2 separate regions of the Homo sapiens genome follow, and region 1 is linked to region 2. The links come from fine-mapping of genetic effects on gene expression. A gene starts in region 2. The other region holds a variant in brackets. All regions are shown on one strand. Distances are between the middles of the regions.

Region 1 (4,406 bases), 480 kb after region 2:
CACAACTCCATTCTGTGTGTGGAGGCTCAGCGCTAAGAAATGTTTGTTCTGAGTCTTTGGAACACAGATCCTGGTTTCCCACCTGGGCTGTCTGGGGAAATGGAAGCTCCAGAGCTCAGCAGTTTCGAAGGTTCCCTGTCACCTGTAGAATGGAGCACTCGCCTCTTCTGTCAGAGGTGGGTGTACTGCCGATTCTAGGACGTAGACATTTACCAAGTGCTCATTAAGAGGACTGGAGAATTCTGATACCCTAGTTAAGGTGAGCCAAACAGTCCAGACTTTATCATTTTTTTTTTAAATGTTTCTCCTTGGGTCCATCTTTCTACCTCTGTGAATACAATCTGCAATACGATTTTTTTCAGTTTTGAAGAGTTATCCAGGACCTTACTGTACTTTTGAGGTCGCCATTTTGAATGTTTGCTCCCATCCTAGATGATTCTTAAAATCTCAAGGCTGGACCTCGGCACTCCAAAGCCAGCTGTCTCCCAGGCATCACATCTGTTTCCACAATGTCTCCCTCGGTATGTCCCAATGTAAATGTGGTTGTTCTGGAGTGGAATCATCTTTCCGAGCTGCCTTGTTTGCTCTTCAGGGCACATTAACTTTGAAATATTCCCCGTAGCATACACTACAATTTCCTGCACACAGCAAGCACTAAATAAATGTTTGGTTTGATTTGAATTCTCCTACCTTTCTATCATCCATAATCTTACAAGCCTGTCTTGAACTAGTGCCTACGAATCTTAGGATTTCATACTTGAACTCTTCCCCCACCGAAAGCTTCTCTGTGACTGTGAATTTCTGAAGAGATGCCAGGGTAACAAGATAGGGATATCCTCCAAGTCAAACCAGCCCAAAAAGCAGTGGCACGGGGAAGAAGGCAGACATCTGACATGCAGATAAACAGCACCACAATCTGGCAGAGTGTCTTCTAAAACAGACACGTCATTCAAAGCAACAGCTTTAAATGTTTAGGCCCAAAGGAAAAAAAATTAATCATCGCAACATCAAAGTAGAAAAGCAAAGTTAACAGGAAAACAAAACAAGCCACAGGAAAACCAAATATTGATTCATTCCATAAATATTTGCTGAGTATTTACTATGTGCCAGGAGCTGAAACAGGGTGAGAGAGAAGAGACAGAACTCCTGCCTCATTGGAGCTCACATTCTAATGGCCTTAGTGCCTACCTTTAAATGTTTGACATACACGTTTAAATTCTCAGGGTATTCAGCATCTCAATGTCTCCACTGATTGTACCAAGTCTCTGGAGATCCACTTTACAGAGAGGCCTCCAGAAAGGCCTCTATGAGCAGGTTACATTTAATGTGAGACTGAAATAATAAGCCAGTGAAAGAAATTCCAGGCATGGTGCACAGCCAACGCCAGGGCTCCAAGCCAGGAAAACCTTGATCTTCTCACACAAGCACACATAAATCAATAACGGGCCAGCTTGCCAGGCCTCCGGCATGTCTCCTTCTCCACCATTCCTGCCCTTGTCCAGCCAGTCCCCATCCTAAGTCACTCTGTAGCACCTCAAATCAACCTTCCGTACTGTTGCCAGTATTATCCATCTAGAAAGCAAGCCTGTTTGGATCAGGAGAAAAGTACAGACTAATCACTAATTATTATCTACTATTTCCCGGGCACTGTTCTAGATGTTGGGGATACAGCAATAAATAAAACAGCTAATGGTTTCTGTTCCAATGAAGCTTACATTCTAGCAGGGGAAGAAAAATAAT[TAATC/C]AAACCAAATTTCAGATCCGAAATGTGATGAGTAAAACAAAATGGAATAAAGTTAATGAAATGATGATAAAATAGAGACTGCCTTGGTTTGTTAGGGCAGGAAGAATGATACCTTTTCTACTGGGTGGTCAGGGAAGGCCTGAATGACTTGGGGCATCAGTATAAAACTTGGGGAGAAAAACATTCCAAGAAGAGAAAATAGCAAGTGCAAAGGCCCCAGGGAGGAAAAGACACTGGTATGTTCCTGGACCACAAAAGAAGGCAGGGTATCTGAACCACAGATAGAGTCACAAAAAAGGGAAATATGAGAGAGAGGCAGGGTCCAGATTCCACAGAGCAGAGTAGATCAAATCAAGAATTATACTGTGATAGCCCAGGCACAGTAGCTCATGCCTGTAATCCCAGCAGTTTGGGAGGCTGAGACGGCCGGATCACTTGATGTCAGGAGTTTGAGACCAGCCTGGCCAACATGGCAAAACCCCGTCTCTACCAAAAGTACAAAAATTAGCCAGCGTGGTGGTGCACGCCTGTAGTCCCAGCTACTGTGGAGGCTGAGGCCGGAGAATGGCTTGAACCCAGGAGGCAGAGGTTGCAGTGAGCCGAGATCACGCCACTGTACTCCAGCCTGGGTGACACAGCAAGACTCCATCTCAAAAAAAAAAAAAAAGAAAAAAAAAAGAATTGTACTGTGATATTAGGAGCAAATAGAGGCCACTGAAAGATTTTAAACAGAAGTTTGGCAAAAATTGGTTTTCCATATGAAACATAACATAATACTTGAGGCCAGGAGTTTCAGACCAGCTTGGGCAACACAGTGAGACACTGTGTACAAAAATCATTTTTAAAAAATTAGCTGGGCATGGTGGCACACACCTGTAATCCCAGCTACTTGGGAGGCTGAGGTAGAAGAATCACTTGAGCCCAGGAAGTTGAGGCTGCAATGAGCTATGATTCTGTCACCGCACTCCAGCCTGGAGAACAGAGCAAGACCCTGTCTCAAAACAAAACACATACGAAAAGAAAATAACAAAAAAGAACATAAAATTGAATTCCCAACTTACACCATAAATGAAAATAAACTTCAGATGGACGAAAGAGAGAATAATAAGAAACAAACATACTAGCTACAATAATATAAGCTTACTATTTATGAGTTACCATTCTACAGGCATCTCACTGTATTAGCTCATTTAATCTTCAAAACAACTTTAATGAGTTAAATAATTATTCTCATGGTAATCAATGATATCACACTGAAGCATAGAATAGTTAACAAATTTGTCCAGATTTTAGTGGCAAAGATGAGATTTGAACTCAGGTAATTTTATTTCCAAGCCTGAGTTCTTAAAATTCTGCTGTGGGAGATATTTATTATGGCTTTATTATGTATGGTTTAGAACTGAAATATGCAATGCACAAAAGCACAAATCATAGAGGAAAACACTGATCTGTTTGACTCCATAAATTTATAAAATGTCTTTATAAAGGTTTAAGTGTATGCATCAGTGTAAGAAGCAACATATCTAAGGACAGCAATATCTATTTTGTTTACTTCCATATTCTCATTTACCTACAAGTGTGCCTGCCCATAATAGGGCCTCATTAATATATGTTGAAGGGATGGATGGTGGATAAACAGATAGATGAATAGCATGTAGGTTTACTCACAGCCAACCTACCAGGCATTGTACTGATGACACAAAGGTGGATCAGACAGACCCCCCCCGCCAACCCCTCTGGAACTCACAGCCTTGTAGGCGATGCAGGCAACATTTGTACATATGATGGCAAGGAGTTAAGGGGCTTGCATCCGAGGCACTTGAAGTTCGCAAGGGGGGATGCTGAGATCAGAGGCTGGGAGATCAGTTCAGATGGGCCAATGAAGGCTTGACCAGGGCAGAGGAAATGGGGAGAAAAAATGCTAATTTTAGACATCAGTAGGTGGTGTAACAAAGGGATCTGGCTACTCATAAGATGTACAGAATTAGGGGCATAGAGATGAAAAGACAACTCTTGGGTCTCTGGATAGAAGATGATGATATTAATGAACTACAGATATAGAAGGAGAAGGTTGAAGAGAGGTAGGCAGTGATTTCAGATTGGACTCAGAATGTACATCTTTCCATTTCTACAACTAGTTATAGAATATTTACCTATTTTCAATTGATTTCATAACTATTCAATAATATTGCTTTGAGCTTCTTGGTAAAAAATATTTTGCAATATCATGATGGCAGTGTTCAAGCAAACTAAATATGGCCTGAGAAGGACTCTGTACTCTATATTTGAGTCCTTGTGGATGAACTGTAACTTAGCCTAATAGTCAGACAAAATTGAAAACCCAGCTTAGTAGTATGCACCTGTTACAATGGCTGAGCGCTGGCCAATCCCAGCTGCCATACTTCAACCACTCATAGACTGCTGAATGTTCAAACTGCGTTCAAAGAAGGCAAACGCCGAGCTGTAACTAATTTCACTGTTTCTGTACCTCATTTCTGATTCCTGTACGCCATTTTACCTTTTTTGTCTATAAATGTGTTCTGACCATGAGGCACCCCTGGAGTTTCTGTGAATCTGCTGTGATTCTGGGGGCTGCCCGATTCACGAATCGTTCATTGCTCAATTAAACTCTTTTAAATTTAATTCAGCTGAAGTTTTTCTT
Region 2 (4,406 bases):
TATTGGCCTCAGAATCCCATCACGGTCCAAACTTGTCTGGTCAGTTCTATTAATAGCAGTCAGGTACAATTGCTGATAAGCCTTAAGTAGAAAATTTTTCTCTTGGTCTAATATTGCTTCAAAGTTATAAGTTTTCTCTCTTGGAAATATATGGCTCAATGTTTATGTTTTAAACTCCACTGCTGTTCCTATGTGCAACACAGAGTCAGCTTAAAATTCACACAGCTTTCTTGTAGCAGTCCCACTGAATACAAGGTCTCAGCTCTAGTGTGAGGGTTTGGGAGTCCTTCATTTATTTAGGCAGAAAACCTAAATGTTGAATGCTGTACTCCTTAATAGTGTACAGCTAACAAAAAAAAAAAAGTTTTGAAGGTACAAGTGATATCATCATTTCTGTAAAGTGTTTTGGAAAATAAAATAACATATCCACTAATCAAAAGCTTTTTCTTTCACAGTTGTTTTTTCTATCCCAGTACAATGTACTCCCTCCAGTTACATTCTCTTGGGTTTAGGATTGGGTTAGTTGGTTAGCTGAGGAATTTTCCTATTCACCATTTCTTTCCCACCTTGAGCTATTCAGGCACTGGGATTGTAAATGAAACTTCAGCCCACTGTATATGATTTCACGTGTTTTACTCAGCTTGAACTCTAACTATGTAACTGCAATAGTTATGTCACAGCTATGCGACTGGGTTTCTTGAGCCCTTCTTGCTAGTAATTCTACCTGTTATGAGCAAATTCATCATATTTTTGTTGTTGTAAACAGTGCCAACCTGTTTACTAAATGTATAAAACTTGGTAATATCAGTTGTCTCCAGCCAGAATTAATGCTAAGGTAAAAACAAACAACAAACAAACAACAACAAAAACAAACAAACAAAAAACCTGCTAGGAAAGATATAGCAGTAATCAGAGATTCTCAAGAGCAACACTTATGTTCTAAGTGGATTTACGTTTGTTCCCCTTGGCCAAAGACTGGGGCTTTGATGTAATATAGTAGGCTGGATCTTTTGATTTTTTACCTCTCTTGATTTTTGAGAAGAGAGAGAGTGTTTCTAGCTAATCGTGGTGCTATCAGCATCAGGTGATCTCTGGCCAGGGCCTCCGTGCACGTAGCATGTATGGTATAGTATAATAGAAGCAGGGTAAGATCATGGTTCAGAACCCGGGCACTGGCAGCAATGCTGGGTTCAAACCTGTCCTCTCCTTATTCAACTTTTGGGAGCAATTTACCTAATGTCCCCAAGCTCATTTTTATCATTGGTAAAATGGATATAATAATAGTTCCTAACTCTTGGAATTAGTGATATAATTAAATGAGATCACCCGTATTAAGCACTTAGCACAGTGTCTGGCCCATAGTGAGTTGTCAATATAAATTAGTACTCTTTCTATAGAAAATCCTCTTTATAAAATTGTAGATTCATTTTAAATGACTTAAACACAAATAGTTATAGTATCCAGGAACCTGCTTAGTTCAGACTTTAAGTATTTCTAGCTGAAAATCTTTGTTGTGCTCAAAGAACATGTTATAGTGCTACTTCTTGTTTCATCACATGAATACAATTTCTGTGCTCTGCTGCAATAGACTGACTTCTTTGTCTGCCTACTCTGCCTGCCTGGGATATGTGAACTATGCCAAGCCTTCTTACCTATGAATACTTCCTCACACTGCTCCCCTACGTTTCTCTCCCACAACATATTTGAGACTGTTATCATAATACTTACAGACATTTTCCTCTTTTTCTTCCCTTTCAATAAGAATTCTTAATTGTGCAGACTCAGGATTGAGAGTGACCGACATGCCTAAACACACACACATTCATTCATGATCACAGAATTCATGCAGTCTTTTCCAAAGCATGAAGGGCCTAAGCCTTCTTATAAATGTAAGATTGATCAAAAAATTTTTGAAGATTCAAATAGTAATCTCATTCATTTTATAAATTTTTTTGGAGACAAAGGGAAGTATTATGTGGGGTTTTCTTTTATCCTATTGGGCGGGCAGCTGGCCATTGAAGAGCCATTCATTGCTTAGTCCCGACACTGCCTTTCCCCATTGGGTCTCTGTAAGAGTCACACGCTTTGGGCATCCTTGAAAAGAATCTTCTGAGGCCTCAGCATTTTATCTGAGTCTTCTGAATCCCACTTAGAACTGTGTTGAGCTCTCACCCATCACGATGAGCAACAAATTCCTGGGCACCTGGAAACTTGTCTCTAGTGAGAACTTTGACGATTACATGAAAGCTCTGGGTAAGAAATGCTTTTTGTTGTTCTGCTGAAAAGCTCCTTTTTAAGAAAGCTACATGACATTTTCATCTACTACTTTTAACAGGATACTGGGGAGTTTTGCAAGGCTGCAGTACAATCCTCTTTTAGGATTAATCTTTTGTTGTGTCATTCAGATAATTTATTTGAATTTTATTTGTGGTAATTTTTAATAGAATTAACTTAAATGAGAGAGCTGCTTAAATGCATGGAATGCCCACTGATTTCAAGGGCAATTTCATACCAAGAGAATTTTGGTTGCAGGTCCAGAGGAGAGAAAGCTTAAAAGCATGGTCAACCCATTTTCTGGCTTTTCTGAGAGCTACGTTCATAGCAACTGAAGTGTTCATAAAATAAGGAATTGAATATATTGCAAATCCTAGAAAATCTCAATTTAAAAATTTAAGTTTTAGCTAAACTAACAGTTTTTTCTCTCTACCTCTAGGTTGTCCTTTATTACACAATCATGTAGATACAGAGAGTTTGAAAAACAAAAATACTTCCTAAAATACTGTGTTCATAGTCTAGGGAAGTTACTGAGAGAAAAAGAACTGGAGTTATGGCAGTGAATTCAAACTCAATTTCGCTAACATCAGACGTTTCTGGAGTTGGAGCAGTGAGTGAAGATGGAAAACCGAGTCATTAGTTACAACAACTTTATTTTATACTATTTCTAGAGTATGTCCCATCGATATAAACACAATAGATATGAAGAGTCTTTGGGAATTTTCAGAACTATATAAATACAATAAAGAGTGATGCCAGTGACCCGAGTTTGCTGTGCTTGTCAAAGTGCCTACAGCTTTACTTAACTGTTCAGAAAGCCTGTATAAAATGTTCTATTTTAGATAAAATGAGCAAAGTCATGTCATTGTTGCCTGGAACAGTAAGAGAACTTATGGGGATCAATTCATACTGTGAGATCGGTTAGATTTAAAGACTTCACTTTACAGCTGAGGAAGAAGCCAAATAAAAGAAAGTCTCAGTGAAGGATTTTCTAATTCCACTGTTTTCCAGTTTAGCATGCAAAATAACACCTTGGGATTTGGTAAATATAAATTCTCAGGCTCTGACCCAGAGATTATGATTTAACTTGAGAAACATTGTCCTAAACTGTATAAAATAACAAAAGATTAATCAGAATTTGAAGAAAGAATATAGTTTATAGTTTATTGGCTGTAACTCTTAACTTCTTATTCAGTATGTAAAAGTTTGAGATCTTTTTAACTGGAAAAAGTTATTCAACCATTGAGACTTCCTGGAAAATTAGTTTTTCTTTCATATATTTTTTATTTTACATTTTCCCTTTTCCATATATTTTATAGTCTTGGTAATAATGGTAATAAACTTAAGAGTCTAATTTTGTTTCATTTTTGAAATGTAGAAGAGTTTTTTAAAAAATATTTTATTTCTCTATGATCATTTATAATAGTATAGATCTCAAAGTTAGATGGATAGTTTTTTTCCTACCAGCTAGATATAGAAGCCACAAAATTTCAGAAGTGAAATTCTATCAAAAATATGAGGGGAATACTTCTCTATATCCATAATATGGTATTGAGGGAAAATATCATAGAACAATACGTATATGCTATAGTCTCATCTTTAAAATATATCTATAGTATTTGTACATACAAACTAAAATCTCTAGAATGATTTATGCAAATCTATAATTAGTAATTTTCAATGGGGAATAGGATTGGATGTGATAAAAATGGATGACTTGCAGTAGCTATTTCAGCTGGAAACTTTTACTCTTGAAAATCTGCAGACATTGGCCGGGCGCGGTGGCTCACGCCTGTAATCCCAGCACTTTGGAAGGCCGAGGAGGGCAGATCACGAGGTCAGGAGATCGAGACCATCCTGGCTAACACGGTGAAACCCCGTCTCTACTAAAAATACAAAAAATTAGCCAGGCGTGGTGGCGGCCCCTGTAGTCCCAGCTACTCGGGAGGCTGAGGCAGGAGAATGGAGTGAACCTGGGAGGCGGAGCTTGCAGTGAGCCGAGATTGCTCCATTGCACTCCAACCAGGACGACAGAGCGAGACTCCGTCTCAAAAAGAAAAGAAAAAGAAAAAAAAAAAAGAAAATCTGCAGACTTTACTTTTGCAACAACAAAACCTAAAATGTTTGAGTCC

Evidence for each region.
Region 1: its variant is fine-mapped to the expression of PMP2 in tibial nerve (GTEx, PIP 0.94).

The regions. Positions count from the first base shown.
Region 1 is chr8:80,962,164-80,966,569 of GRCh38, reverse strand. No RefSeq gene overlaps it. Among named protein-coding and RNA genes, the nearest start is that of ZNF704, 90 kb to the right of the region's middle. The variant TAATC/C (reference allele first, on the strand shown) is at 1,741.
Region 2 is chr8:81,445,161-81,449,566 of GRCh38, reverse strand. PMP2 (peripheral myelin protein 2) reads left to right here and starts at 2,128. Exons shown (of 4, transcript NM_002677.5): 1 at 2,128-2,253. The coding sequence starts at 2,181.